2 separate regions of the Homo sapiens genome follow, and region 1 is linked to region 2. The links come from fine-mapping of genetic effects on plasma protein levels. Region 2 holds a variant in brackets. A gene starts in the other region. All regions are shown on their forward strands. Region 1 holds the start of ACSL1 (acyl-CoA synthetase long chain family member 1). Region 2 has its middle 160 kb from the start of MIR5195.

Evidence for each region. PIP is the posterior inclusion probability: the model's chance that the variant is causal. Protein levels are from antibody-based Olink assays in UK Biobank. Linkage for the fine-mapping came from a reference panel and not from the study's own genotypes, which makes the PIPs less certain.
Region 1: it holds the start of ACSL1, and the variant in region 2 is fine-mapped to the plasma level of the ACSL1 protein (UK Biobank, PIP above 0.99).

What each region holds. Positions count from the first base shown.
Region 1 is chr4:184,819,600-184,835,637 of GRCh38, forward strand. It overlaps ACSL1 (acyl-CoA synthetase long chain family member 1), which reads right to left and starts at 6,369. Exons shown (of 21, transcript NM_001995.5): 1 at 6,317-6,369. LOC105377587 (a long non-coding RNA gene) reads left to right here and starts at 6,572. Exons shown (of 3, transcript XR_939564.4): 1 at 6,572-7,372; 2 at 11,514-11,836. RefSeq lists enhancers at 5,618-5,687, 6,938-7,441, 7,048-7,097, 7,268-7,547 and a silencer at 5,858-6,817.
Region 2 is chr14:106,684,588-106,700,625 of GRCh38, forward strand. It overlaps IGH, the pseudogene IGHVII-67-1, the pseudogene IGHVIII-67-2, the pseudogene IGHVIII-67-3 and the pseudogene IGHVIII-67-4. Among named protein-coding and RNA genes, the nearest start is that of MIR5195, 160 kb to the right of the region's middle. The variant T/C (reference allele first, on the strand shown) is at 7,995.

The sequences.
Region 1 (16,038 bases), not on the chromosome of region 2:
GGTACACAGACCCATTAACCCCATGCCGCCAGAGTTTGCTTTCTAGAAGCCTCAGGATATGGTGGTTTGGAGAGGAGTGGAGATAGCAGGTAGGAAGCAAGCTGCAGAAGCCCCTGACAGGCAAGGTAAGTAAACACCTGGAGCCTTATGGAGGGGAGCCTGGAAGGCTTCTGCTTAGGAGGGATTTGATCAGAGCTGTGATTTAGAAAAAGCAACCATCCCCCTCTGCACCCTGCCCCTCTTCCTAACAAAGGCCTTCACTGTTTAAATTGGAGGTGACAATTCTGGTTCACGATGGCAATACTGAGAAGGCAAGGAGGAAATGCATGTGTGTTGGGTAATACTGCACAGAGAGGGTCAGAATAAGCAGAACTGCTGACTGACTGGACTTCAGGGCAGAAACCAAGGGCAATACCGACGTCCAGCCATTCTTTGAACAGGCACAGGGCCCGGGAACAAACTCCACACGTGTGCATGGCCAGAGGGTCAGGCAGGTTGTGTTACCTTGGCCAAGTCACCCCCCTCCGATCCCTGCAGACTCCCAAGTAGCTGGGACTACAGGTGCCCACCACCATGCCTGGCTAATTTTTTGTATTTTTAGTAGAGACAGGGTTGCACCGTGTTAGCCAGGATGGTCTTGATCTCCTGACCTCATGATCCGCCCACCTCGGCCTCCCAAAGTGCTGGGATTACAGGCGTGAGCCACTGCACCCGGCCAGTCATGCGTCTCAATTGTTCTCCAGCCTTACAAGACCAATGTCCAGGGCAGGCAAAGCCTTTTATTTTTTAATTCTCTAGAAAGTCACAGCTACATAGCAAGTGATCTTATCACTCCCTGAGCCACGCTGAATCAAAATTTGTGGTCTCTTTCAGCACTCTAGTGGTATAAAGAGATAATTCAAGGCAGAGTGTAAATGAGATGGGGGTAAAATCAAGGAGCAGTGACACCGAAGGAGACCCAGCTCTGTCCTTCCTGTCTTACTGCCAGCTGTATAACCTGGAACTTTCTTTTTTTTTCTTTTGGAGACAGAGTCTCACTCTGTCACCCAGGCTGGAGTGCTGTGGCGCAATCTTGGCTCACTGCAGCCTCCGCCTCCTGGGTTCATGCGATTCTCCTGCCTCAACCTCCCGAGCAGCTGAGACTACAGGCACGTACCACCACGCCCAGTTAATTTTTGTATTTTTAGTAGAGACGGGGTTTCACCATATTGGTCAGGGTGATCCACCCGCCTCGGCCTCCCAAAATGCTGGGATTACAGGCGTGAGCCACCGCACCTGGCCTAACCTGGAACTTTCTAGGCCCTCCTGGAGTGAGAACTTCTAGCTCTGGAGGGGCAGTAGAGCCCAGCAATTAGGAGCACAGACCCTGAAGCCAGACTGCCTAGGTTCAAATTCTGGTATGGGGAACTTAATCTTTGCACCTGTTCCTTTATCTTGTGTACAGTAAGGATAGCAGCAGGACCTACCTTACAGGGTTGCTGAAGGTACTAATGAGTTAACCCATCAGAAGCTTAGCAGCACCTGGCTCTGTCTGCTGCTCTCATCACTGCTCTGTTCCTAAGCCTGGCCGTGTCCAGGCTGTGGCTACCACCTCGGTCAGCTACCACAGCCCTGCTTTGTGGCAGACACCTGGACCCTGAAGGAGAAACTAGCTCCGGAAGCACTTTCTCATGACTCTGCTTAATAAAGGAATAAATAGTATTCAGAGTGTTTCAGTCCTTCTTATATGGACATTTCTCCCACAACAAACCTAAGGGGAAAGTGCCCATTTCTATAGCAGCCAAAGCTGTGCTAATGGATAGAGCCTACATTTATCAGAAGTCCCCTCCAGAATGAGGAAATGGTCTACAGGCAGGCCCCGTTTCCTCCTCTGATGCCCTAACTTCTTTCCATTTCTCTTTCCAAACCATGAAATCCCTATTTCAACTGCTTTTGACTAGAATACATGAACCCAAAAGTCCATTAAACCTATTCATTAGTAAAAACACTTTTCAAATTATTGTTAATTTCAAGAGTTTTAAAGCAGAACATTTTTTATTTTTTAAAGACGTATTTAAACATATAACAAAGGTTGGTAAACTGTTCTGAAAAATATCCAACAAATGGGGAGAAGTAACTAAATTATGGCCCATACAGCAAATAATGCAGTCATCTTCAGAACTTATTTTTTGAAGAATATGTAACAACGTGTAAAAAAGCCCACAATATAACTTAGGTGATAAAGTTAAATTGTCAAAATTGTAATCTTTAATTAACAATGTATGCTTAAAATTTGTTTATTGTATAGGGAAAAAAGACTGGAAGGAAATATAACAAAATGTTAATAGTATTTAATCTCTGGAAGAGCTTCATTTTTCCTATTTCCCAAATTTTCTCCAGTAAGTATGTATGACTCTTAAAATATGAAAAACAAATACAGCTTTTCTGTGGCAAGTGGTTTTTAGATATTAGACAGCTTTCAGAATTTTATTTAAACTTGAAGACCAGCAAATAATTCATAAAGAGAATCAGCCCAGGCACCTATATGGAACCACCAGTTTTGAGATTTTATTTTATTGTTTTTACTTTTTTTTTTCTAGAGATGGGGTCTTGCTCTGTTGCCCAGGCTGGTCTTGAACTCCTGGCCTCAAGCAACAAGCTATTTGCCTCCAGATGATCACATCCTTCTAAGGCAGGCAGCACAGGGGAGCAGGGCCCTTACTCACCTCCACTTAAGTTTTTGTCCAAGGGTGACACCCTCCAAGCCAGCCACACTTCAAGGAGTCTCCAATATTTCACCCGCCCCTCTTGATTCCTCAAAGGTCATAAGTGAATCAATACTGTGTTGTTTCTAACACAGTCAAGAACATGAAAGTGGGCTGGGTGCAGTGGCTCACGCCTGTAATCCTAGCACTTTGGGGAGGCCAAGGAGGGCAAATCGCTTGAGCCCAGGAGTTCGAGACAACTGGGCAATATGGCAAAACCGCTTCACTACGAAAAAAATACAAAAATTAGCTGGGCATAGTGATGTGCGCCTGTAGTCTAAGCTACTGGAGAGGCTGAAGTGGGAGGATCAACTGAGCCCAGGGAGGTGGAGAGGCTGCAACGAGCCATGATCATGCCTGTACTCCAACCTGGGCGACAGAGTGAGACCTTATCTGGGAAAAAAGAAAAAAAAAAGAAAGTGAAAATGTCATGATGTAGAAAATGAACATAACTCAGATTATGTGATAGTTTTCTCTTCTTGCCATTATATACAACCCAAGGCTTGCCACAAACTGAAATTTCTTATGCATTGACATTCAGCATTTGATGTAAAATGACAATCTTAGAGTCGCTGCCACAAACCCTGGTAAAACTGCCCCTGCCTTCTCCAGTTCACTAAGTTCAGCTACTCCTTCAGGGCTTGTGCTCCTTTAAAACTTTTCAGAAGCCCCTTGAAGTACCAACATGTTGAAACTCAAACTCAACTGCCTGCAGCTTCAGATCAGCTCTGGCCACTGAGAATTCTTCTCCAGGCCCCAGTGTCAAAGGCACTTTTGACCATCATGTGTTTGTCTGACTACCAAGTTGGACTGCCAACCTTCACTAAAAACTCCGGCACCTTTATCTACCTCCTGTCAGATCACCGCCTGTCAGAGAGGGAGGCCTAAAAAGGCTTCAGGATATCAACAGCTTTGAGCTGCCTTAGAGGAACTTCTTTTCTATTTTGTAGTACAGGAGCCTCATGCACTGCATCATCCAAACAAGACTCTCCACAAAACATTACTAATGGATTCTAATTGAACAGAGTTTGGTTACAAGAGACAGTAAACACAAATGGGCACCTGTTTTAAATGGCAAACTTACACAATAAATTCAATTGATCTTAAAAACTAAACATTCCTCTAAGGTTACTGACTATAAATATCTAGAAATTACTACTCCTATAGTCTTGCTATTTCCAGACAAGTGAAACTGGAAGGGAGAGAGGAGAAATACCCAGTTATAATGACAAGACAACCTTATCTTTTCTCAAAAGCCTCCCCAAACACACAACCATTTTCCACAAAACAGTTACATCAAAAAAGATGTAGCAAGACCTAGACATTAAGCATGCTAGAAAGTAGGGACAGTTTTACCAGTGTTTGTGGCAGCAACTCTGAGATAGTCATTTTACATCAAATGCTAAATGTCAATGCATAAGAAATTTCAGTTTGTGGTAAGCCCTGGGTTATATATAATGGCAACAAGAGAAAACTATCACATAATCTGAATTACGTTCATTTTTCTGCATACACCATGCATGCTGGTACACTTTCAGTTAGCCTAAACTTCACCCAAAAGTAGAGGTGGCTATGAAAACTCTACCTGCATGGTATAAATAGATACCTAACCCTACATGCATGGGTCACTTGTATCTACCTCCTAAATACCAAAAACTTAGAAGCCCAGATTTCTTTTCAGTCAGGCTGCCTGCGATAACAATAAAAATACTGCCAAAATAGGAACAACAGAGACAGGAAGGAAATATGCCAAAATGCTTATAATTGTGGGGAAGGGTAATTTTTTGTTTTGTTTTGTTTTTTACAGAGTCCTGCTCTGTTGCCCAGTCTGGAGTGCAGTGGCGGGATCTCAGCTCATCACAACTTCTGCCTCCTGAGTTCAAGCGATTCTCCTGGCTCAGCCTCTCGAGTAGCTGGGACTAGAGATGCATGCCACCACGCCTGGCTAATTATTTGTATTTTTAGTAGAGATAGGGTTTCTCCATGTTGGTCAGGCTGGTCTCGAACTCCTGACCTCAAATGATCTGCCCGCCTCGGTCTCCCAAAGTGCTGGGATTACAGTGAGCCACCACGCCTGTCTGGGTAATTTTTTTTTAAGTATTCTGTTTACAGTAAATTCAGAAAACAGAAGTCTTTAATATGTCTGTTTTAAAGGGGAGAGGTATAAGGTGTGCGGCTAACAAGTTTATTTTTCTAGTCGCAGAATTTGGACTCGTGAAAGATTTTAGTCTAATGCAGTTTGTTCACAAATATAAGGAGGGGGGCCTCAGACTAGGGAGGTGTTTTCCGAGTTGAGTCAGAACAAGAAAGTAAGTCTCCCAAGACCTGGTCCTTTTCCACTATATCACACTGCACTGTCTGGCTCCAATCTGATGGCGAGCAATGGTTCCTTAAAAAGCTCCATCTTCTCAAGCCTACCCAGCACAGACCTACAACTCAAACTTTAAGTTTTAGCCAGCCTAACCTTCCACGTCCACTTGAAAAAAGAAAAAAAAGAAAGAAACAATCAACCGGAAGCCTTTGATTTTTTTGCTAGCAAGAAGCCAATAATTGTTTTCTTTGGGACAATCACAGGTTAAGTTGTGAAATGGGTGGCAGAAACTGCAAGATTTAACCAGTTTCTCTCAACGCTAATCAAAGGTCAAGAAAATAAAAGACAGGGCAGTGAGAGTCGCGGGACTTTAGACACTCCTGCACCAAGAAGCTTAAAAGTCTTAGCCAGGGCACTAGAGAACGCTTTTAGAATGGTCACTCTTAATTATGCTCCATAACCTTGAAATTGGACTGAGTGGGGAAGGGGTTTCCACACTCTCACAACGCACCGACTGGGGGAACGCCTGTCCCCAGACTCGAATCCACGTGTCCATTCAAGTCATCTACCGCCACTCTCCGTCTACGCTGCCAGGTGACAGACATCATCTTTGCTTCTCAATTTCAAAAAATGCCAGCACTCCTTAGATCAATGACTCCACGGCCAAGTGCAAGGGCCACGGGCACTCCTCTGGAGTCACCGAGAGAATGTCTGCCTCTGGCAGCGGCCTCTGAGCTGCCTGTGGGCCTCGTGCCGCCGCGCTGCGTGGGGCCGGCATCTCAGCGGGCGCGAGTGCAGTCTCGCCCCACGCGCGGTCCGAACGCCCGCGAGCCCGGCCTCTGGGCAGGCGGGGGCCGCGGACGAGGGCAACGTCAGCGGCCCAGCTGGGCCACCTCCTCCCAGCCGAAGCGCGGCCTCCGGCTGCTTCGCCGGGCCGGTCCCCGCCGCCGCACACACAAGGGTCGGTCCCGCGCGCATCCCCGGCCGCGCACCAGCCCCGCGCCCGCGCCGCCCGCGACTCAGACACAGGAAGCTGCGGCAGCACGGGCACCCCGGAGGCCTCCGGCTGCCGAGGGAAGCGGGGCCGCGGGCAGGAGGCCGGAAAGGCGGCGCGGCCCCACGAGCCTGGGGTGGCTCACGCGCCTCCGCGGCGGCCGCTGCTCCGGGCTCGGCCCTGAAGGGCAACGTCAGCCGGCGCCTCGGCCGGGGCCCGGGCACCGCCGCGGGAGCAGGCGCGGCTCCGCACGGCGGGCGCACTCACCTCCTCCGTGGACCGGCCGCTCCGCCGCCGGCTGTCACTGCAGCCCACTCCCTGCCCCGCGCCGGCTCTGGATGCTATTTAAGGCGCCGCTGGCGCCGCCGCCTCGGCCCGCTGGTTGCGCCCCCGCCACCGCCGCGGCTGAGCCAGGATGCTGCTGGTGCGCTCGCCGCGCCGGCCCCGCCCTCCCGCGGCCCCGCCCCGCCCGCAGGCCCCGCCCCCGGCAGGCCCCGCCCCGCCGAGCGCCCGGCCGCCCTCCTGTCTGGGCGCGCGTGGCTGGCGGGTGGCCGGCGGTCGAGAGGCTGCGGCGGGCGAACGCCGCTGGAGTCGCCCAGACTGCCTCGGATTTCATAATGAATCTGAGGAAGGACAAAGGGTACATTGGACCGCCTCAGCTCAGAGGCCCCGCGGACCCTGGGCCCCGCGATGCCCGAGGGGCGGGCGGCGCCCTCCGGATCCTGCACCCTCAGCCCGTGCCCCGCTGGCCTCCTGGCAGGCCGGGCAGAATTCTGCTGCGAGGGCCCTGGAGGCAAGGGCCTTCCTCTCCGTTTTTCCTTGACACTGACGGGCGCGGCCCCACAGGGTTTCCCCCACGCTCCCTGGCCGGAAGACCTTTTCTGTCTGGTGTCTGCAGAGCCTGACGTGGGCAGCGCCCGCAGCTCGCGCCGGTGCAGGGGAGCTGAGGGCCGACTGCGCGCTGCACCACGGCGGCCACCTGCTGTGCGGTTCTGAGGGCTTCCGCGGTTCTGAGGGCTTCCGCGTCCCTGCCATGCCCATCTTGGGGCTTCAGAAGCCAACACGATGGTTTTCGGGCTCACATCCCAAAGGCTGCTCTTCCTTTTAGCACCTGGGACCTACCAGGAACCTCAACCTCTAACAACATTGGTCCCCGTTACCGTGGAGTTTGCGCCCAGCGTTCGCTGGAGGGCCGTTTGAAGAATGATTGTTGTCGTAAAGGCCTTTGATAATAATAGATACTGTTTACCCAGTGCTTGATGCCAGGCATTGCTACAAACACTGCGTACACATTATTCTATTTAATCTTCATAACCCAGTGAGGTAGGTACTGTCATTACTGTCCTTTCACAGAAGAGGAAGCTGGGGCACAGAGGTTAAATGCTAGTGAGAGCAGTACCACACTTGGCACTCAGGCTGCCCCCAGAGTGTGGGCACAACCAACGCAGGGCTATGCCTGGGCTGCAGGCAGGGGAAACTGACCGTGGTTCGCTCCAGGCCTCAGCCACACTGCAGTTCACTCCCACAAATAACTGAAGGACTTTCCCTGGGTGTCTCCCACAGTGTGCTGGGCGCAGTGGTGCAGTGGGGTGAGGACAACGCACACACCAGCAACCTCTCTAGCAGCTCAGTCCTTTTAGATCTCCATCTTCCAGATCTAGAAAAAATGGACTCCACGTTCGTTTTCACTGGTTCCCGCTTGGCTAATCCCTGGTTTTTCTGTCCAGATCTCGCCTCCCCATCCGTGATTTTGTCATCTTTGCCTCTCCTTTTTCCTCTTCTCCAACCGGTCCCTCAGCCCCAGAACCTCTGCAGGCACCTCCCAAGTTCTGTGGTCTATTGTTTTCAAGGGCTGCTGGAACGAAGTACCACACACTAAGTGGCTTCAACAACCGAAATGTATGGTCTGTCCTGGTTCTGGAGACTAGAAGTACAAAATCACGGCGTGGGAGGGCTGGCTGCTTCCGAGGCCCATGAAAGAGCATGTGTGCCCGGCCACTCTGACTTGCAGATGCCCATCTTCTCCCTATGTCTCCTCACACCATCTTCCCTGTGGTGTGTGTGTGCAAATCCCTTCTTTCTATAAGGACACCAGTCATACTGGACTAGGGCCCACCCGAATTGCCTCATTTTAACTTGATGACCTCTGTAATCATGAGGTAATGTCCAAGTAAGGTCCCATTCTAAGATACCTGAATGCCCAGGCACGGTGGTTCATGCCTGTAATCCCAGCACTTTGGGAGGCCGAGGCAGGCAGATCAACTGAGGTCAGGAGTTCAAGACCAGCCTGGCCAACATGGTGAAACCCTGTCTCTACTAAAAATAAAAAAATTAGCGGGGCATGGTGGTGCGTACCTGTAGTCCCAGCTACTCGGGAGGCTGAGGCAGAAGAATTGTTTGAACCCAGGGAGGTGGAGGTTGCAATGAGCCAAGATCACGCCACTGCATTCCAGCCTGGGAGACAGAGCAAGACTCTGTCTCAAAACAACAACAACAACAACAACAAACCCCTGAACATATGAACTTGGGGAATGTGGGGGTGACAATTCAACCCGTAACATGTGGATGGTCGTCACTGGCTGTCTCACCTTACGTCTTCTCCTCAAGACACTTTTCTTTTAAACTGGGTGCCTCTCCCTGGGCTCTAGCCCTTAATGAGGTGATTTCCAACTCAAGGCTGGGAAAGGCACACAACCCAGTATCAGACCTGAGTTCACACTCCTTCTGGCAGGAACTTCTAGGTGACATTGGGAAGCAACTTCATTCCTTAGAACCTAGATTTCTCCTCAGGCTATAAGGGGGCTTGGCTAAATAATCTCTTAGGTCTCTTTCAGCACACACACTTAAAAAAAAACAAAAAAGTTTTTATCTAATCACTCCAAAAAGTTTTACAATGTATGGGGTTGTCTTGTGGACTTGAGATAGAGACTTTGATGGGAGGCAGTATTGCATAGTGGTTAAGAACACAGGCTTTGGGGTGGGTGAATCCACATCAAGCCTCATTGCATCCTCCTTAAATCAGGAATAATACCTACCTCAGACAGGTGTCATAGGATTGACAGCCACGCCCTTGGCGTTCTCATTAAATGAAGATTCCAGACTCTATAGTTGGGAGTTTGTGACTTAGGTAAGAAACCAGTCTCTTTTTTTGAGACGGAGTCTCACTCTGTTGCCCAGGCTGGGGTGCAGTGGTGCGATCTCGGCTCACTGCAATCTCTACCTCCTGGGTTCATGCCATTTTCCTGCCTCAGCCTCCCAAGTAGCTGGGACCACAGGCACCCACCACCACACCCGGCTAGTTTTTTGTATTTTTAGTAGAGATGGGGTTTCATTGTGTTAGCCAGGATGGTCTCGATCTCCTGACTTCGTGATCCACCCGCCTTGGCCTCCCAAAGTGCTGGGATTACAGGCGTGAGCCACCGCGCCCGGCCTTTTTTTTTTTTTTTTTTTTAAATGAAGGACATGATTGTTTTTAAAAATTGGGCCAGGTGCGGTGGCTCACACCTGTAATCCCAGCACTTTGGGAGGCAAATGCAGGAGGATTGCTTGAGTCCGGGAATTCAAGACCAGCCTGAGCAACATAGTGAGACCCTCCGTCTCTAAGAAAAAGTTTTTAAAAATTGTGTCACAGTGATCACAATGACCACTATTCACATCATAATGGCTTTTCTTTTGGCTATTAACACTGCAGTGTTTTTGTATACTGAAATGTGTCTGTGGGACCAACAGCATTAAAGAATAAAGATCCTAGATGAAAATAAACACTAATAATCCTGGTGTCCTCTCCAATAGAATTAATCTAAACTCCTTATGAATCAGTAGCATTATAATGTTATGTAGTTATGAGGAATAGAATTCTTTTAGAAGCAGGCAGCATGAACTTATACTTCCTTGTACTTACTTCTTTAAGAAACCAGTCTTAACCCTCCTTTCTACTGTCTTTTTTTTCAAGCATCTCTCTAGCCAAGGGAATAAGAGCCAATTGGATATTGTAGTGGTGCAAATTTCCTAGCGGAAATTTGAGTCTTTTTTCGGTCACTCCTGCCCTTGTTACATTTTGGCCTGATTAAAATGTTGTGGCTAATTCTGGCTAAATCCACATTGACATCTGCCTAACACCGATTGATCAATCTCCTGGAGAAGCTAAAGAGAACTGGGCCGGGTGCAGTGGCACATGCCTGTAATCCCAGCATGTTGGGAGGCCAAGGTCGGCGGATCACTTCAGCCCAGGAGTTTGAGACCAGTGTGAGCAACATGGCGAGATCCTGTCTCTACAAAAAATACAAAACTTAGCCCAGCATGGTGGTGTGCACCTGTAGCCTATAGTCCCAGCTACATGGGAGGCTGAGGTGGGAGGATCTCTTGAACCCAGGAGGTCGAGACTGCAGTGAACCGTGATTGCACCATTGCACTTTGGCATGGGCAACAGAGCAAGACCACATCAAAAAAAAAAAAGAAAGAAAGAAAAGAAAAAAAGAATCGAAGTCTTTCTGGGTCAAGCTGATTAGCAGGTTTACAGTGGCCTTGTCTCAAAAGTTCCCACTTGTGATTAGGAACTACAAAGCTGTGATTATTATTAATCTTCTGCACCTATTGCTTTTGAGCATGGCTATCTGAAGTATAGCCACATCAATTAATAATGGCCGATGAGCTTTTAATTACAGACCTCGGTAATTGGCTGGTTAAAGGAAGATTGGCATCAGTAACTGAGTTCTTTTTGTTCAATCCATTTTGGGACTGCAACTATATTAGGCATACATCCATGCCCCCATGAAACTGTAAGGGACTGGAAGGAGGCAGTGTGTCCCGTGAATCCTCATGAACCATCCCAGTCTTTCTTACTCCCCTGCACGTCCTCTTCATTTACACAGAGTAGGTATTCAATTGTTGAGTTGGACACATTTTTCTAACTACTCGATGTCAACCAAGGGTAGATCCACGTTTGGAGCCTTAAACTTACACAGTTTAGGGAACCTCTATAAGAAAATTACAAATACAAAGTTGGATACAAAAGTGAATGTTTCCTTTAGAATTAGAACAGAAATCACAGTAAACTACAAATTTTAAAAGTTTGGGCTTTCTAGGGCCTCCGGCAGTAGGGAAGGGAAAAAATGTTGCCCACATAATTGCAATCATAAATTTCACAAAATCCAGAAAAAAATCACCTAAAAATTTTATTAATTCTTTTTTCCTACCACTCTAATAAGTTTTTTTCCTGTGTTTTGGGCTGTGTACTAATGAATGTTTTCTTCATGCGACATTTTAAATAAACTTTATAAAACAGTTTTTGATGTATAGAAAAATTGCCAAGTTCCATAAACCCCCCACCCAATTTCCACTGATTAACATCTTAGATTAACATTTGTGATGATGACTGAGCCAATATTGACACATTATTATAACCAAAGCCCATCCATTGTTCAGATTTCATCCGTTTTTACCCAGCGTCCTTTTTCTGTCCCAGGATATCAACCAGGATATGGCATTGCATTGGATCCCAACCAGGATATGACGTTACATTGGATCCCAACCAGGATATGGCATTGCACTGGATCCCAACCAGGATATGGCATTGCACTGGATCCCAACCAGGATATGGCATTGCGTTGGATCCCAACCAGGTTATGGCATTACATTGGATCCCAACCAGGTTATGGCATTGCATTGGATCCCAACCAGGATATGACATTGCATTTACTCATCACGCCTCCTTAGGTTCCTCTTGGCTGTGACGGTTTCTCAGACTATCCTTGTTTTTTAGGACCTTGACAGTTTTGAGGCATACTGGTGAGTGTTTTGTAAAACATACTTCTATTGGGAGTTGTCTGATGTTTTTCTTACGATTAGACTGGGGTTATAGGTTTTTAGGAGGAAGGCCACATGTGACATTTTTATAATATAATTTTCTACAGGAAGAAAATTCGGACTTTTCTCTACCATGATTGATGGGCTTTTCTTACATTGTTAGTTTTGATTCAAAATCAAAACTATGTGGATGGGTACCAAATTCATTGCTTTTCATTTTAAATGAATGCTGATTGGAAAAATTTTCAGTGGTAAACCTACCGGCTATGTCCATTTCACTCCGTGTTTCTCTTCCCCTGCCCATCTCCTAAGATGCCTTAGGAGAGGGGAAATATGATCTCTGGCCTTGAACCTCCTGCCAGGATGCTAGATAAGTTGACAGAGAGGGTGGAGAAATATACCTGAAGGCATTCCTGTGCGGAGAAAGCTAGAGCTATACATGCAAGTCCCTGTGAATTCCGTAACTACATCTCCCCAGACCCAAAGAAATGTATGTTCAGCTCCAGCTCTTGTTAGCTGGGTTCCAAAGATGACCTTGGTCACTTCAGCACCATAATGGGATGAGGTGGTGACAGAAGAGACTTTGCATAGAGTGCACCAACTGTGCTATGTGCTGTATCAACTGATTGCAGCTACGTGGTCTTACTTTTGCAAATTTTGTGGAAACATTTAACCATGTGACTAGGTTGCCAGAGCCCCTCCCGAGGTCTCACAAGGGGCTTCTATAAATGAGAAGCCCTAAAAATCAAGCTATGTGAGCCTCGCAATGAATCTACTCCCGTTGGCAATGCTTTTTGCACCGTTATGATGCCACTGCTTGGACTTGCTAGTTCAACTCTCCTGGGCTTCAGCGGTAGTGAAGAAGAAGCATTTCCACCAGGCCGACACTGTTCTAACACTACTGATAATTATCCTGTGGTCTTCAGTGGCCCTAATGAAGTCATAGTCCCTTTCTCCACACCCCTTTTAGTTTTAACATGCACTTGATCCACTGGCTTCATCCACTCCATGTGGGAGAACAATCCACAGCTGCTTAGGCCGCAGCTGCCCAGGGTTTCCCCTCTCTTTTCTGGGTTGGAGGACTCCAGCTCTCCCAGACTCACTGCTCAGGCCTTCTCCTGGCATTGCAGTTCTGCCCCAACACAGAGCTGACAAACCAGGGCGTCTAGACCCCACCCTGCGTCCCCACAGCACTCTATTTTTTTGTTCTTGGAAGTGATATGAAGATCTTATGTAGTCAATGTCAAAAAGAAATGATAATTACTTCATTTTTCCCACTCAACTGGCCACTTATTCCCAACTAGTAAAATTCAACCTCTGCAAGGGTTTCTAAGGCACCCTTCATAACCTGACCCTGCTTTCCCCGCCAACAAGTTCATATCATTTTCCTCTCCAGCTATCTGTAGTCAAGAGTAAAAAGTCTGGAGTCACACAGGTTGGAACCAATTCCACTACTCACTAGTTCAGACCCAAGGCAAGTAACTGTCAAATCCCTGTCTTTCTTATCTGCTGAGTGAATATAATACTGTATTGCATCAAATCTAAATCATCAATTGTAAGATGCACTATTAATTTATGTAGCCCTGATAAAGAAAAGAATTTCTGCTGATTTTAATTGCAAAACATTGTCCTTTGGAAGATGCACCCTCTATCAATTCGCTTTTGCTGTATGACAAATCACACCAAAACTTAATGGCTTAACACCACAATCATTCATTAGCTCATCATTCTGTGGGTCGGCACTTGGGCTAGGTTCAGCTGGGTGGTTCCCCTGCTGGTCTCTCTTAGGCTCAGTCCTGCAGCCACCAATAGCTGGTGGATCAGCTGGGGCCAGATGCTCTGGGATAGCCTCATTTACATGTCTGATGGTTGGCTGACAATTTGCTGAGGCTCCTCAGTTCTTCACATGGCCACCCTAGCAAACTAGCTCAAGCGTGTTCAAATAGTAGTGTCACGGCTACAAGCACAGCAAAGGGGACAAGCCTCAGGGCATAAATGCTTTTCAAACCCCTTGCATCATGTTTGCGTGCTTGAATCCAGGCAGTCTGGTTCCAGACCCTCGACTCTTAACCTGCAGAGAGTTCCGTCTTACTGGAGAGGGGAATGAGAGCAGGGATGGGTCCCGTTGGCTAAAGCAAGCCACATGACCAAGTCAAGACTCAGTATGGGAAAGAGCTACTGAAGCACATGGGTACGAGGAGGAGAATTTTGCTGGTTATTTTGCAATCTACCCACATCCTGACTGTGTACATAAAAAAGTCTGAAGAAATTTGTACTAAGAGTGCACAAGTACTAAGAGTAGTAGTGCTTGCCTCAAAGAGTTGAGTAGTAGGGCTCTGTGAGATAATGTCAGTAATATCACTTAGTACAGTGCGTGGCCCCTGGTCAATGTTCTGTACGTACTATTACTATCACATTTGTGTCCGTGCTTCTTTCTACCAGAAAGCTGGTAAATTCATGTTTATCCTCCCAATCCTAACTCAGACATCACTTTCCCTAGGACACACACACAATTTGTTGCTCCCAGAGCTGTGCCACCCTGTACTTTACACACATTGCCTTTGTTGCAGCAGGTTGTCATTCTTGTGCTTCTGTGGGCCTGGCTTTGGGCTTTTTGGTAGCAGATATTCTGTGTCTAGACACCTTCCATCCCCAATACAGTGCCTGGCACTTGATATGTGTTTATTTAATTGAAGTGACATGTTACTTCCAATAGAACTTCTTCTCATTCCCCTGGGTATCATCTTCCTTTCCTCTGGGGATGCTCCCACAGCACCCTACCATCTTTCTAGTGTAGGACTTGTGACACTGAGCTGTGATGACTTGTTTGCGTAACATGCACACATAAAGAATTTTCCTTATTTCTTTATATTACACAGAGCTCCCCAGTACCATGACTAGCGGTAGCAGCAAATACTCTATAAATACCTGTTACATTTATTTATTTATTTATTTATTTATTTATTTATTTTTGAGACCGAGTCTCACTCTGTCACCCAGGCTGGAGTGAAGTGGTGCAATCTCAGCTCACTGCAACCTCCACCTCCCGGTTCAAGTGATTCTCGTGCCTCAGCCTCCCGAGTAGTTAGGATTACAGGCACCTGCCACCAGGACCAGCTAATTTTTGTATTTTTAATGGAGACAGTGTTTCACCACGTTGACTGGGCTGGTCTCAAACTCCTGACCTCAGGTGGTCTGCTCACCTTGGCCTCCCAAAGTGCTGGGATTATAGGCATGAGCCACTGCGCCTGGCCAACACCTGTTAAATTTAGAAAACAGAGTTTTCAATCTCTGTCTTACACCCAAGAAGGCCTGTGGCCCAGAGATCCGGAGTAAAATTAGATTCAGTATTTAATCCATCAATAGCTCGTTCTTACTGCATCCCTAGGGTATGAACTCTGCTGACTTTTCTCTCCTCTTTAGATCACAACCCAGTGACATCACCACTACACAGAGAATCATTGCAGGCCCTATCCATGTCTCCGTGGTCTCTCTGATCCCCCACCCCCACCCCAACACACACACCACGCGCGCTCACAAACGTCAGTATTTTATGTGAGTAGAGTGTGTCTATAAATACCATGGACAGTGGATGGGACTTGGATCAGGTCTTTTGTCACCCTATGATACCCTATGGGGGCAGGACCCCAGGACCCCATAGAGTTGGTATATTGGCTCGGAGGGATGTTGAAACTGTGAGTGGAACAACATACCACCATCCTCCACTTCCATTTGCACCCTCTACTTCTCTCCTGCAGCAGGCTGACGCCGGCCCAGAGCCTGCATACAGCCACAAGCTCACTTCTCAGCCTTTTGGAGGCCATGCACCACCTTGGGAATGCAATGGAAGATTCAGACCCTCCTCATAAACGTTTCCCACATGCTTTCTATGGGTTCCCTGGGGTCCCCAGTTAAGAGCCCTGGTGGAATAGAAAGGGCACTGGATTTGTACTTGCAGAGATCTAAGTTCAAGGTCTGATTCTACCTCTCACTAATTCTGTGGCTGATCTCTCTGAGCCTCAATTTCTACATCTGAAAATGAGGTATAGCCAGCACTGCAGGTTGTAAGGGGCCTGCTACGTGATAGGTCCTCAGTTTTGCCTTCCCCGTCTAAGCCTCCTAGGTACCTGGTTACCATTTGCAAGAGCCTGGAGCTAACAGGTGGAAGTTTCATTCCAAGTTCA
Region 2 (16,038 bases):
TACTGGAAAGATTCTTCCTCTGGATGGTCTGTCTGGAGAAGGTTCTGGGTATATGTTTTAGAGATTAGGTCTCTTGAAGACTGACCCAATTCACAAGGAATTTATATTAATTCTAAGTTAAAAATGTGGAGGTTCCTGGAGCAAACAAGGGCCCCCCAGAATATCTCTTTCTAATAATAGCACAAACCTGTCCTTTAAGTTCTTTAATTCAGATGTATATATAACAAATCAAACAGACAGGGTCATTTAAATAGTAACTTACTCATTCAAATAAGTTAGGGCAGCAGCTGAATATAATAATCAAATTGAATTCAAGCAAATCTGGGTGCAAACAAATGTTTATCATAGTTCAGAACAGTTTCATTAACTCAATTAATCTGTGTAACATTTCATTTCTGAGGTATTTCACCACCAAGTGTATTGAAGTGTTGCCATAATATTGCTGTGTAGTTGGATTTTTTTATGTCAGCCTAACATGTAGGTCAGTTTGAAAAATGTAAATTTTTCTACAAAATGGCCATCATCCCTAGTGTTGCTAAAATATCCAGAAATCCTCAATCTTATTGGTTTTCACTAATACCTGAATTTCTGCAAAAATTATATGAACCAAAAAAAAAATCTCCCCTTCATGGATGACTGAAAACTGTGAACTTTACTCACCACTACAAATAAAGCCAGTTAATGCAGGATTCTCAGTGCGGCATGTTGAGCCAGTAATGTAGGGCACATATCCTAGAGGGGTCCCAGTGTGTCTCTGCCAATAAAATTTGAATTGAGGGATCCTGATTATGCATTCATGGGAGTATAGAATCCTCAGGATCCTTAGCAATAGAGCTTTACAGTGAAAGGCTTGCAGGTGGAATGAGTCCATGATGATTCAGCATCTCCTTCTCTCTCTTTTTCTCTATTGTCATCTCTCATTACTGTTCTTTGCTTCAGAATCCTTAAACGAGCCAACAGCCTCCATTCTACATACTGCCAACTCTGGGCTGAAAGAGAATTATGAGCAAAACAAATGTTTTCTTAACAAGGTGAGGAAACTTTCTGAACTTCCATTAGGTTTATTAGAGACTCTCATGGAGAACCATAATCAAGCATTATTTGTTTTTCAGTCACTCCCCAACATTGAAACTGTTTTTCATAATAGCTACACTAATCTGAATCTCCACCACTATGGAAAGCAGTAAGATGATCTTAAATCAATTAGAACTAGAACTACTGTATGACCAGCAACCTCCCTTCTGGGAATATACCCAAGATAGAAAAAATCACCACCTTGTGGAGATATCTGCACTCCTATGTTTACTGCAGCGCTATTCACAAGAGCCAAGATATTGAAATAATCTAAGTGTCAATGAAAAAAAAATGCAGAAAAGTGGCTGGATGCTATGGCTCACGCCTGCAATCTGAGCACTTTCAAAGACTGAGGTGGGTTGATTTTTTGAGGTCACAGTTTGAGACCAGCCTGACAAACATGTTGAAACACCATCTCTACAAAAAATACAAAAATTAACCGGGAGTGGTGGTGCATGCCTGTAATCCCAGATACTCCGGAGGCTGAAGCAGGAGAATTGTTTGAGCCCAGAAGGCAGGGATTACAGTGACCTGAAATCACGCCACTGCACTCCAGCCTGGGTGACAGAGTGAGTGAATCTCCATCTCAAACAAACAAACAAACAAACAAACAAAAAGGATAATGGCAATGTGGTATGTATACAGAATAGAATATTATTTAGCCTTTTAAAAGAGATGCTGCCATTTGCCACAGTAGGAATGGGTTTCCAGCAGCACTAGCCATGCATTTTATCCATTCAACCCATTCCCCGGGGACTGGCAGATCCACGTCCAATATTAAGCATTGGTTGTGATGAAGTGGCCAGAGACAGCATGGGTGAGGTCAGTGTGTGATCTTCACACCTAGGCATGACTGCTGTAGCTGCTCCTGAATAGGACATCTGGCGGTATGGAAAATTAGTTACTGTCAGTTACAGTACTATTCCCATAGACCCATGTCTGTCATCTGGACATCTGAGACTCTCATGATTTACCATCTTTAGGCTGTTATCTCGATACCTAAAGGGTATTCTAGTCAGGGAGATGCACTAAGGTCTCTGTTCTGAGTGTGATTGGAGAAGACTCAACAGGTCCCACTGAGCTGCTACAGGTCTCCAATTCTAGCGACCACGGTTGAGGACTTTTCATTTCTGTAAATGTCAATTTGCGTTTTGTCCATATGAGAATATGTCCTCATATTACAATATTTTTTAAAAACCTATTTAGTGATGGCATTGGTAGGCACAGAATGCTAAAATTAGGGAAGTTCTCTGGAGAAACTGTCAGATGGAAGTTTTGTTTTTTTAAAAATATACTGGCAGGAAAGCAGTTCTTAACCTTTCTGTGCACCTCCCTCTGGGGTCGACTCTCATCAGTGGGTCCCAAGCTCCCCCTGCAGCTAATTCGCCCATGTGTCCCTGGAGGTTTATGTCTGGGCACACACTGGCTTTCCCTCATGTGCTCCTCTTGCACAGTGATATACTGATGTGTTCTTGGTTTACAGATCGCCCATTTGCAGATATAGCATATTCTTGACATTGTCTCTGGAGACAATAAATCAAAGACAAATAAATATTCTGTCGGACCAATAAAACCTGAGAAAACCTATTTCCAGCACATGAATCTTTCCGTAGACATTTTAGCAGAGTCTCTAGATGAATAGCCATGTGACATAGATCCAACACCTGAAAATATGCACAAAGAAGATGGTCAACAATGGAAAAATGAGGTTGAAATACAGTTTTTGCATTTGTATTTTGTTCATTATGTAAGTGTGGAAAGCAATTATAAAAATGCCAATATTACATTTTATAGCATGTATAGATACAAACAGAAAATAAAAAACATGGGATAGGAAAGAGGAATTAGATATATAGAGTTATAATATCTCTGTAGTATATATGAATGGGAATTAAATTTTTGAATTAGAATTCAATTATAGAAACTTTTTATTGTTATCCTTATGGTAACCCATAAAATGTTAGTCACAGAATGATTAAATAATAAGTTAATAGAAACAATAAACTTTATTGTAAAAATACAAATTAAAACAAGAATAATTGGACAAAAGAGTAACATCATTAAAAAATAATTCTTCATAGTTGACTAAAAAAAAACACCCAACTATTATTTATCTCCAAGAAAATTTCTTTACATATTCAGAAATAGAAAAAATAAAGATGGAAAAATATATATCATGAAAATATAAACCAAAAGAAAACTTAAATAGCTATGTTAATTTAAGACAAAATAATCATAAAAAGAAGACCTTTGGGACTCAAGAGAAATATTACATAAAGTAATAGGATCAACTTTCCAAAATACATTTAAAAATACTTAATGAATGGATTTGGAACAGAAAATATAATAACATGTATAGAAGACGGAGAAATCAACACTCATTGTGATTGACAAGCAGTGTTCAAATAAGTAAAGATATAAGTGTCCTAAATAGGACTATCAATCTACTTGATAAATTTTTATCTATAAAATATTAAACTAGAAAACTTCAGAAACACAAACTGTGATTTGCCAGAAGAGAATAAAGGAACATGACAACTCAATTCAAAGTGATGACCTTGTTGGAATCTGGGAACAAACAAATATACAAAAACAACAGCAAGGAGAGATCCTGTCTCAAAAAACAAAAAAAAAAAAAGAAAGAAAAAAGAAAAAGACAGTATCCACTAAAAGAGACAAACCGTGAATTATTTAAGACAGTTTATTCTGAGATATATATGAGTGGCCAAGGCCCATGACACAACTCCAGGAGTTCCTGAGTACACGTATCCAAAATGGTTTGGTTACAGCTTGATTTTATACATTTTAGTGGTACAGAAGGTATAGACAGATATGAATCAACACATGTGAGCTATACCATTTACACAGTCCAGAAAGGCAGAATAAGCTTACTCAAGTGCTTCCAGGACATACGTGAATTCAAACATTTTCTGATTGGCAATTGGTTGAAATGTTACACACTCATTACAAATGAGTATCTGGATTAAGATACGAGATTGTGGAGCTCATAATTGTTATTATGTAGATGAAACCTCCAGGTAGCAGACTTCATAGAGAATAGATTTTTAGGCGTTGCTGTTTGTCATGTGATGCTATACTAGAATCATATTGTAATTTGGTATCTTTTCACTATGAAGAGTGTTTATAGAAAAAATATAGTTTTGTCAGTCTAAGGGTCTTTGTTTTAGTGTTAATGCTGGCCACAGGTGCCTTAATTCCAAAGACAGGAGGACATAATGAGGCATATCTGACCTCTCATTTTCCCATTATTGCTGGAACAAGTTTTAAAGTTTACTTTAAAATATCTTTGGCTGATAGTTGAGTTCATTTAGTTGGATGAGGAAGCTTAGAATTTTATTTTTGGTTTACAAAAGAAATTATTGGAAAAATGGTAAATCTCAAATAAGGCCTGGTATTGAATATATTTAAAGTTATCAACGTAAATGTGTTAACACCATGTTTTATGATTGTGGAGGATGTTCATCTTAGGAGATACTTAGAGATGGGAACACACTGTATTAACTTTATGATTATTTTGTTAATCTACAATTATTCTGAATCAAATGTATATGAATGTAAAAATACTATCATAAAAATACAAGTCACAATTGATAAAATAGGTTTCTGGAAATTATAACATGTCAATCATAATTATGGACATTAATTTTAGAAGATAATATAGAAATTATCATCAAAAAATGATAAATGTTCATTTCTATCAAAAAACAAGTGAAGTACCTAATACTAAAATCAAGCAATGAGAGTGCTATTTGTATAATTATTTTATTTTCTATGATAAATAAAATGTGTTATTATTATAGGCATATCATAGACCAATAGTGGGCATAATCATGTTATTTTTTTCTAAATTTTGTGCCAATATCCTGTTAATTTCATATAGACATTTCTTACTGCATGTGTCATTTCCAAAATATTCAGCTATTATTTTTCATTTTAATATGACTCCTCTGTAGGCCCTAGGTATTCCAAATGCTTTCTATAACTTTTCCCCTTTTGTGGTTTCTACTGTCTCTTAACATGCAAAACTTCAATTTATATAACTATATAGGGGAGTAATGTATTTTAGAAGTTCATAATCATGCATACACATACACACATATGCCCAGTACTGAAATATACATGTGAAAATAGAAAAATGAACACCTATCCAAATACCAAACCAAAACATGAATTTATTCAATTTATTTTATTTATTTAATTGAATTGAATTTACTCTCTTTTATAGTATAATGTAGTAGTCCCAAATAATGCTTTTCTGTGTGAGTGTTTCTCTATCCTAATGCCAATAAACAAATACATTTAAAGACATGCCTCGGTAGAACTGAATGTAAATGCCATTCTGGCCAAACACATTAATTAAATGGACAATGGTATTTATGTATAGAATCTGTGTTGGTTTATTTGTCAGTTTTGCTATCAGTATACTTTTAAAATACCAGCCAATTATTAATAAACTTAATAACATATAAGATAAACATCACTTTTAAAATTGTATTATATTATTGGTTAAATTCACATTGTATTTTTATAAAAGTCAGGATAAATGTTCTTATTTAGAAATTAGGATTTTTTTCTACAATTGATTTTGTATAAATTTGCAATACAAATTCTAGATGTTAATTTGCCAGTACTCCTGGATGCTAGAGAACATCCAGTAATATGGAACTGAAAACAGCCCAGGATCCCCAAAATTCACTCACAATGGCAGGGTTGTCTGAGAATTGCTAACACATTAGGGATTTGAACTTCATCATCAAAGCACTAGTGAGCCTTAGTGCTGAGCACACAGAGAGCAGCAGGAGCTGCAGAGACTATTCTGTGGTACTTAGGTAAAGGAGTGGATGTGGTGGAGGTGACGTCTGCAGGACCCTAGAAAGGGGTGAGGAAGGCAGAGAGTCTGCAGGTAGATGAGCATATTCTAAGGAGAACTGTTATCCTCCTAAACTTGGTTGACTTCAATGATCATGAAGAGAAGTGAACAGATTCACCAGACATGGAAGAGGCAAAATAAAGGGACTTGTTGCTTCCTTGCTAGGAGACTGAGGAAGACAAAAGGCTTGGACAGAAGAAGGGAAGGTGGAGAAATAGTGTGAGGAGCAGAACACCAGAACCCAACCAAGGTGGGGGAACTGAGCCCTGAAAGTGGTGTTTCATCTCCACAAAAGGCAGATGAAAGAAAAAGAAACTTAACACTATGCCTATGCTGAGTTATTGGTAGAAAAGCATTGACTATAGTGTGACTGACACAGCAAAGAAAACAAAAACCCATGCATGGAACCAGAGCTTGAATTAGGCATACGCAATTTCTTATTATCAAAACATTCAATTACTGCTAGTGTTATTCTAAAAATATGGAGGGTTAAAAGTTGAATTGAATTCCTGTTCTAAGTTAATGATTTGTACGTGAAAGAAACCATGGGTTACAAGGAAGAAATGGTGAGAGATCCTGGGAAGGTTTTCGCTTGACCAGATCAGGGATCAGCAAGGTCTAAAAGCAAATCTGACCCTCCCCAGGCACCTGATGTGGAGCTGCCTCCTAAGAGAACCCTGTTGTCTGAGTGATACCCTGGTGGTTCCTGAGCCCCCCATGGTGGCCTGAGCACCCCCTGTTCGTCCTGAAGCTCTGGTGTCCTCAGCACTCTGAGCAGTCGTGAGTGCCTCCTGGTGGTCTTGTGTGTCTTTAGGTGTTTCTGTTACCCCTGGTCCTGAGTATTTCTTGGTGGTCTGGAATGCACCCTCGTGATTCTGTGCCCCCTGCTGTCCTGAGCACCCCCTGGTGTCCTGAGCCCCTTCCCTGGTGTCCTGCATGCCCCTGCTAGTCCTGGTCACCCCCAGGTGTTTCTGAGAGCCCCCTGGTGTCCTGAGCACCCTCCCTGGTGTCCTGAGCGCCCCTGCTGTCCTGAGTGTCCCTGGGTGTCCTGAGAACCTGCTGGTGGTTCTGAATGCCCCCAGTGTCCTGAGCGCCCCCTGGTGGTTCTGAGTGCCCCCGAGTGGTTCTGATCCTCTTCTGGTGTCCTGAGTGCCTCCTGCTCCCCCGAGTGCCCCCTGGTGGTCCTGAGTGCCTCTTGCTGGTCCTGAGCATCCCACTGTGTCTTGAGCGCCCCCTGCTGTCCTGAGTGCACCCCGTGGTACTGAGCGCCCCCTGCTGTCCTGAGTGCCACCTGGTGGTTCTGAGTGCCCCCAGGTCATTCTGAGCTTCCCCTGGTGTCCTGAGCGCCCCCTGCAGGTTCTGAGGGCCGCATGATGTCCTGGGTGCCCCCTGGTGGTTCTGAGCACCCCCAGGTTGTTCTGAGAGCCCCCTGTTACCCTGAGAACAGCCTGCTGCTCCTGCATGCCCCATGGTGTCCTGAGCACCCCCTGCTGGTCCTGAGCGCCCCCTAGTGGTCCTGAGCGCCCCCTGCTGTCCTGAGTGCCCCCTGGTGGTTCCAAGTGCCCCCAGGTCTTTCTGACCTTCCCCTGGTGTTCTGAGCGCCCCCTGCAGGTCCTGAGGGCCCCATGGTGTCCCGAATGCCTGCTGCTGTCCTGAGTGACCCCTAGTGGTTCTGAGCACCCCCAGGTGGTTCTGTGAGCCCCCTGTTGCCCTGAGCACGGCCTGCTTCTCCTGCATGCCTCATAGAGTCCCAAGCATGCCCTGCTGGTCATGAGCGCCCCCTGGTGTCCTGAGTACCACCTGGTGGTTCTGAGCTCCCCCTGGTGTCCAGAGCGCCCCCTGGTTTCCTGAGTGACCCTTGGTGGTTCTGAGAGCCCCCTGGTGATCCTGAGCAATGCCCCCTACAACACACACCATGTCCTGAGCGCACCCTGCTCTGCTGAGCACCCTCTGCTGTCCTGAGTGCCCCCTGGTGTCCTAAGCACCATTTATCACAAAGTCCTCTCTTGTCTCCCTGCAGGGAGGTTTC[T/C]GTCTGGACTCACAGAAATGTCCCTCGCTGTGTCTCTCACAGTAATACACTGCCTACCCCTGTGAGAGCCCCCTCAGCTTCCAAGTAGATTATTTTAAGGGAGACTGTGCTGGTAATTGGTGTCCCTGGGAATTGTGAATCTTCATTATGCTGATGCAGAATATCACTGAGAACTTCCACTTGAATCAATCACTGTTACCACCCACTCCAGCCTCTGTCCCCCAGCCATCTGGGCTCAATTTATGCTGTAGTCAGTGAAGGTGAATCTTGATGCTTTGCAAAAGAGGCTAAGAGAACAGCCAGGCTGTTTTGCCAAAGATAAAAATATAGATCCAGTAAACATTTGAGGTTTCCCAGGAAGGTGGGGAGAAGGTGTGTGGATTAGGTGAAACACACACTTTTTAATCCCAATGAAACTATTTTTTTTTTTTGAGAGGGAGTCTTGCTCTGTCACCCAGGCTGGAGTGCAGTGGCGCGATCTCTGCTCATAGCAAGCTCTGCCTCCCGGGTTCGCGCCATTCTCCTGCCTCAGCCTCCCGAGTAGTTGGGACTACAGGTGCCCACCACCACTCCCGGCTAATTTTTGTATTTTTAGTAGAGATGGGGTTTCATTGTGTTAGCCAGGATGGTCTCGATCTCCTGACCTCGTGATCCGCCCACCTCGGCCTCCCAAAGTGCTGGGATTACAGGCGTGAGCCAACACGCCCGGCCAATGAAACTATTTTTATGATATTCAATGATGGACACATGGCATAAAGAATTTCTGAAAACTCATATTTTTTGAGACAAAGTGTTAACCTAAATGCATACAACTTCGAAAGTATTTAGCAGGTCATGAAACACAAAAAAAGACAGCTGTATAAAAATATCTAACAACAATCAGAAGGTTTGAACTAATTACACTGAAGAAGGTGGGGCATAAATATTGGACACAAGAGACTTGGAAAGAATTTGATGTTGCGATTGTAAAACATAAATAAGCTCCACATAAGCACTGTATTCTAGTTGATAAACATATTTTCAACAAGGGTCAGTTTAACAATCCTAAAGACGATTTGTGTATTTTGAAATTGTGCACTAAGTAAATTAATGTCATATCTTAGGAGAGGTTTTCTCATTTTGGAGTGTGGGATTATGGACAAGCAGAGAAAGAAGGCTATGAATGTCTATGTGGATGACAGTAGTGTGTAAAAGCCAGTGTGTTCTTAGGTTTAATGTAATATAGTTACAGAATATTAGACACATAAACACTTTAATTTTGAATCTTTGTGGGTAAATAGTACACGTATATATTTATGGGGTACAGGACTCTGAATCAGCATGAACTGCATAATAATCACATCATGAAGAATATTTTATACATCCTCTCAAGCATTAATAGAGTTACCAACATTCCATTCATAAACTTTTATTTTAAAATCTATAATTAAGTTATTGAGGACTATATTTATTCTGTTGTGTTATAAAATATTATGTGTTATTTATTATTTCTAATCACTTTTTCTACCCATTGACCATCCCCAATAATCCCCATCTACCATAGACCTTCCCAGCTTCTGGTGACCATCTTTTCCCTCTCTATCTCCACGAGTTCAATTGTCTTAATTTTTAGCTTTCACAAATAAATGGGAACATGTGAATTTTGTCTTTCTGTTCTGGGCTCATTTCAATTAATATAGTGAACTCCAGTTTCATCCATGTTGCTGCAAATGACAAAATCTCATTTTTTTATGGCATGATATTAACCCATATCCTATATGTACCATATTTTATTTATCCATTCATGTGTTAATCGGCACATAGGTTGCTTTCAAATTTTGACTGTTGTGAACAGTGCTTTAACAGTGCTATTACAGACATGGTAGTGCAAAAACATTTCCTTTTTAGGGGTATATACCAGCAGCAGGATTGCCAGATTATATGATAACTCTATCGTCAGGTTTTGAGGAAACTCTAAGCTGTTCTCTATAGTGGTTGTACTAATTTAAATGCTCAACAGTTTATGAGTGTTCCCATTTCTCCACAGCCTCCCAGGATCCTGATGTGGAGCTGCTTTCTAAGAGATTCTTCCTGTTCTGAGTGCCCACTGGTGTTCTGAGCGCCCCCTGGTGTCCTGAGCGTCCCCTCGTGGTCCTGAGCTTCCTTCCCCTCGCGGTTCAGAGCGTCTCTTGGTTTCCTCAGCGCCCCCCCCCCCCCCCCCCCCCGGTGGCTCCAGCACGCTGACGTGTCCTGAGGTCCTCCTGGTGGCCCTGAGGGCTCCCTAGTGGTCCTGAATGCCCCCTGGTGCCCTAAGAGCCCCCTGGTGGATCCGAGCACCCCCCGCTGTATCCTGAGTGGCCCCCTGGTGTCCTGAGCGCCCCCAGCTGTATCCTGAGTGCCGCCTGGTGTCCTGAGCGCCCCCTTGTGTTGAGTGCCCCCTGGTGCTTCTGAGCAGCATCTACCATGCAGTTCCCTCCTGTCTCCCTGCAGATTTTTGTGTCTGGGCTTGTGCAGATAATCTCTCTCCTGTGAAGCTCACAGTATTACACAACCTTGTCCTTGGCTTTCAGGTTAGTCATTGTAAGGTAGAGTGCACGTGAAAGGGTGTCGCTGGACCAGTTAATTTATTTGTACTCATGAAGAGTAAACCTGAGCACTCCCACTTGTTGACTCACTGTTGCCAGCCACCACAATCCCTGTTGTGAAGCCTGCTGGACCAACCTCAGGCTGTTGCCAGAAAAGGTGAATCCAGACGCTTTGCAAGAAAGTCTCAGTGAACCACTGGGCTGTACTACGTTTACCCCTCTGACTCCACCACTGAACTTCATACAGGACTTCTATGAACACAGAGGAAATAGACTGAGAACAACCCTATGAGCAGCCACAGCTGGACCTGATTTACAAGGGACACTAATATGGAGGGTGATGAGAAGGGAAACCCAGATCAGTGCAGACTCCATAGTGTGAACACTGAAGAAAGACACAGATATGGGGTGGCTCCTCACCAGGGCCTGAAGGAACAGGGGATGAGCTGCCTTTCATGAGGAGGGGATGGGACATATTTCCAGGTCTTTCTCTTTGTGGTCGTAGGTGCACCACTCAGCGTTGCTCATCCATCCTCTGTGTCTCCATTTCAGGGAAGGCAGAGTCAAATGGTTCCTGCGTCTGGATGCACAGGGTTAATCTGCCCATTGCTCTTTTTTATTCTCTAATGTGGACACTGTTCAGGTATCTTCATGTGAGCAAACATTATCAACAAATTAGTCCAGTAAGAACATAAGAAATACATTTCCAGAGAAAATGGAAATCTGACTGTAATCAGTGCATTTATAGCTGCAAACGACTGTTTCTGACAATGAGATGAAGTTATGTTACAATAGACAAAATGCAGATCTACAGATTTTCAGGGTTGGAGTTTATAATTATCATTATCTTGAGATCATTTTGTCGCAAGACAGTTTAACATTGGACATATGTGCTTGTGTCAGGAAACAGTCAGTGTTGAAATATGTGTACTTATCTGAGTGAAGACTTCATTCACACTGAGACATGTTTGCTTATCTGAGACAAGAGTCCACATGAGGAAATGTCTGTTTTCTGAGGAAAGTGTAAATGTAAGGACATATGTGGTAGTCTGAGGAAATAGTCCATGTGGGGACATTTGTGTTTGAGGGAAGAATCCACATGAGTGAAGCTGTGTCTGTCTGACAGAAGAGTCCACATATTGACAGGTGTGTACCCATCTGAGGGTAAATGCCCATTCAGGTCAGCGTATGCCTGAACTAAGCTGAAGTTAGGGGAAAATCTTTCTCAACCAATGAAAGAAAAGAATCCTTTGGGTTATTTGCTTGTCGGGAATTAAAAACAAGGGTAAGGTAGAAAATTGATTTTTTTAAAATAAAAGGTCTTCAGTGAATGGAAACATTGTATATGCAAATGGGGAAAATTACTTCATTCTTTGTTGCATGTATCTCATAACATCCCCACTCTCACCAAATAAGTTATTGGATAATTTTATACAGTCTGCATTTAATCCTGGGGTTAATGAACTGCTGAATTTTTTTAATTGAATATGTTTAAGTTTATATTTTCTATCACAAAATTATTAGCTTAGACAAATTAGTTATATCATATCTCAACCATTGCATATCACTAAAAATAGTTTTATTTTTCCTAAACACCACATTTTTTTTTTTGCTTATTTTATACCCACTCTCTAAATTCCTGGAACATCCTCTGTCTGTTTACTTGACTATAGTCTAAGCATTTATGGAATTTCAAATAAATGAAATTATACAATGTAATTGAAATGACTTCATTGAAGAATGTGGAAAATGAAGTTGCTGACCTAAGCAACTCAGAAAACGAAGAAATTCTATAAGTTTAATGTGTAAAAAATCTGCACATAAGCACTCTATTCTAGTAGATAAACATGGTTCCATCAAGGGCACAGCTTTACACTTTTGATACTGCTATGCATGTGTCCTGAAACTGTGCAGCTAAGTAATAAAATTACATATGGTGGAATGGGGTTTCTCACTTTGCAGTGGGTGGTTATGGAAACGCAAAGAAAGAAGACTAGAAAGGTTCATGTGCTAACATAGTTGGGTGGAGAGACCAGTGTGTTCTCATTTTTAATGTGATATGGTTACAGAAGATTAGATACATAAATAGTTTCAATGAGTCCATAAACTTGGGTTCACATAAACATGCACGTTTACTGGGACCATTGTTTGAGAGGTTCTAGAAGTACTCATACCACATTAACAACACACAGAGCCAGTATCACAATGTTTTATTTTAATACTATTCTTTAACATCAGAAACATGCAATCTTTATAAAAGTGGTTGATTCTATGTAAAAAAAGGTAATAAAGAAAACAAGCTTAGAATTTATGGTAATACCAGGAAATACGCAAGTGTTCAAAAACAAAAATATGAGGTGTGCTGTAAGGATGCAGGATTCAAACAAAATGAGCTCCCAGCACCTAATAAAGCTGTGGTGCTTTGAACAATTAAATGAATGATGTAGCATGGATCTTTTTCAAAGTATAAAATGGACATCCATCAACCAATACTGATATTAATAGATGATTAATTAAAAAATAATAGGAAGAAGAACACATCTCCTTACAGAAGTATTCCAAATACATTAGATTGATGGTCCTCCAATCAAGCAGGTGAAGTTTAAACACTCATGAGTTGATTGTGGCCTGAGATTAGAGATATGGAAAAAATAATGACTATTAGTTTATTTTATAATGAAACTTCAGATATAATGCCAAAGGCATGATCTATGAATGAATAAAATTATATATGTTTTCAATCTAAATTTGTACAAACACACACACACACAAACACACACATTTTTCTGCGATACCTACTGATAAGGGAGTAAAAGGCAACCACAGACTTGGAGAAAATACTTCCTGTGGGGTTCAGTCAGGCTCGTGGGAAAAATTTTAGTTATAATAGCCACAAGTCCTCGTGGAAGGCTTGAGAGATTGCATAACTTCAGTAATAAATCTGGCTGAAGGCAGCCTAGTCCCCTTACCTTTAGTTTAGTAAATTTGAGTAGAAACAAAAGAATGTGGGGAGTTTATCTAACTAGCTTGTTCACTCATGTGGTCCTAAGACTCACCTTTGATCTACCTGGATGGTCAGTCAAGCTGGCAAAGCAGAATATCTGTGTGTCAGTGTACTTTATTCACCCGTTGTTGTGTCAGGACCTGCAGGACAGACCCCCACAGCCGGTGCCCCATGTGAGGATCGCTGCAAAGGGAGCGTGACAGACCCCATGAAAACGAAGGTTGAGGAAGACTGCGTGGTCAAGTCAGTAAAACAGTAAGTCATTGGTGCCCACTTGGGATCTCCAAGTTCAGGGGAGATTGTTCAGGCTGAGATTTCATCATGGGACAGCAGTTATCAGCTCAACACAAACAGCATATGAAAGTATTGTAACAGTTGCTTAAGGCTAGGGGAGCATCAGTTTCGCAGGCTCAATTAAGGCACCTAATGAAAACTGTTGTCTCACATAATCTGTGGTCCCAGAAGAAGGAAAGCTAGAAGTAAAGCTCTGGGAACAAGTAGGGAGAAATCTTGAACAGCATTACACACAAGCGCAACGGGTCCCAGCATCATCTTTAACACTATGGGCTTTAGTAGGGATGGCTTTAGTCCCATTATACAAAGAAGAACCCAAAAAGGGGAAGGAGGAAGAAACGTCACTTGCCTTACCACCTGCTCTTCCCAAAATAACAAAGAGGAAACGGAGGTTTTGCCTGAGCCCCCTCTTTCAATAGATAGAAAAAATAGAGGAAATACACTACAGCTATATGTCCCTGTCTTCGACAAGCAGCATTAAAAGGGGAGCTCTTAGACTGCCCAGTAATGCAAGATCAGCAAGGCAATCAGGTACACGAAGGGTTAAGAAAAGGCATTAGGGGCAGGAGCAAGTGCAGGAAGCTCCCCTCTGCCGGCAGCAGCTGCTGAGCAGTGTGGGGAGGGAGCTGGCACAGAGGAAACGCGGTGGCGAAAAGTGGCTTCTAAGCAAGCACAAAGCCGCAGCCGCCCTGGGACCCACCTGCTCCGCTCTCTGGCTCCGCAGGCGGCCCAAAGCAAAATTTGTTATGTTCTTTGTATACAAGCGACATCCCAGATTATAATTCTATGATAAGAGTTAAGTAAAATTTAAGAATTTGAGAAACCTCTTTCTAATAATGGCCACTGTTATCTCTCTCTTATTCCTAACATGACTCCAAATCCAGTTTAAGTAAAACAGTAACCTCTAAAGGGAGAGACATTACAAAAAGCCCCTAAGTTAGTTAGGGAGCAATTAAAAGCAAGCTTTGCTCCCTAGTAGGAAAAAGTTTCCTGGCTACAAGATTATTCATTTTATGGGTAATATTCTACTAACAGCCCTTAGAATTTACCCATTTTCATCATTCCCAAAAGGCCTAGTTAATGTGTTACCTACAAAAATAGTTTACTCCCCCATATTTAATGCTTTAGCACTGTTTACTGATAGATCTGGTAAATATGGAAAAGCAGCAGTCTGGTGGACACCACACAATTCATTCACTCAATCTGGGTTTACTAGCACTCAGAAAGCTAAAGTTGAGTCCTTAATATTGGGTCTAGAGAACTTTTACAGCCCTAATTAAGTCAACTCTGGAGCCAGCCCTGTGGACTCTTTTTCTCTGATTTCAGCAATTGCTAAATCAAAGTACACATCCTATTTTATTACACACATTCCAGCCCACAGCTCACTGCCTGGTCCATTAGCTTATGACAATAATCAAGCCAACCTTCAAGTTATGATATCGCTGCTTGACCAAGCCACCCAATTGCACCAATTTTTCCACCAAAATTGGAAAAACTTATCTAAACAATTCCAACTTATATAGAGACTGGCTAAACAGTCTCTGAGATCGCCAGCTCAACTTATACAGAGACTGGCTAAACAGTCTCTGAGATCGCCAGCTCACAGGCACGTCTCCTCCTTCAACAGGTATTAACCCTAGAACCTAATCTGTTGTGGCAAACAGATGTTACACACATCCCTGAATTTGGAAAACTTAGATAGGTACATGTATCCTTTGATATCAACACTCATTTAAGTAGTGCACATACTCCGCCTGGAGAGTTTACTCGATATGTCATTAAACATCTTCTTTTATCTTTTGCATTTATGGAACAACCCGCAAAAATTAAGACTGATAATTGTCCAGGTTAGGCCAGCTCACAATTTCAACAATTTTGTCACACGTGGAATATCCGACATTCCTCAGGTATCCCATATAAACCCCAAGGACAAGCAATAGTAGAACTTGCCAACTCCACCCTTAAAATATGCACAAAAAACAAAAACAGGGGAGTATGGGTACAGACCCTGCAACACTTTTGGCACAAACCTTATTTTTTTAATTTAGAAGACAAATTTGAATCCGCTGTAGAAAAGCACTTTGCTAAAATTTCCCAATACATGAAACCTGCAGTTTTATGGAAAGATGTAAACAGTAATGAATGGTGTGGTCCAAGTGAATTATTAATGTGGGGAAGAGGG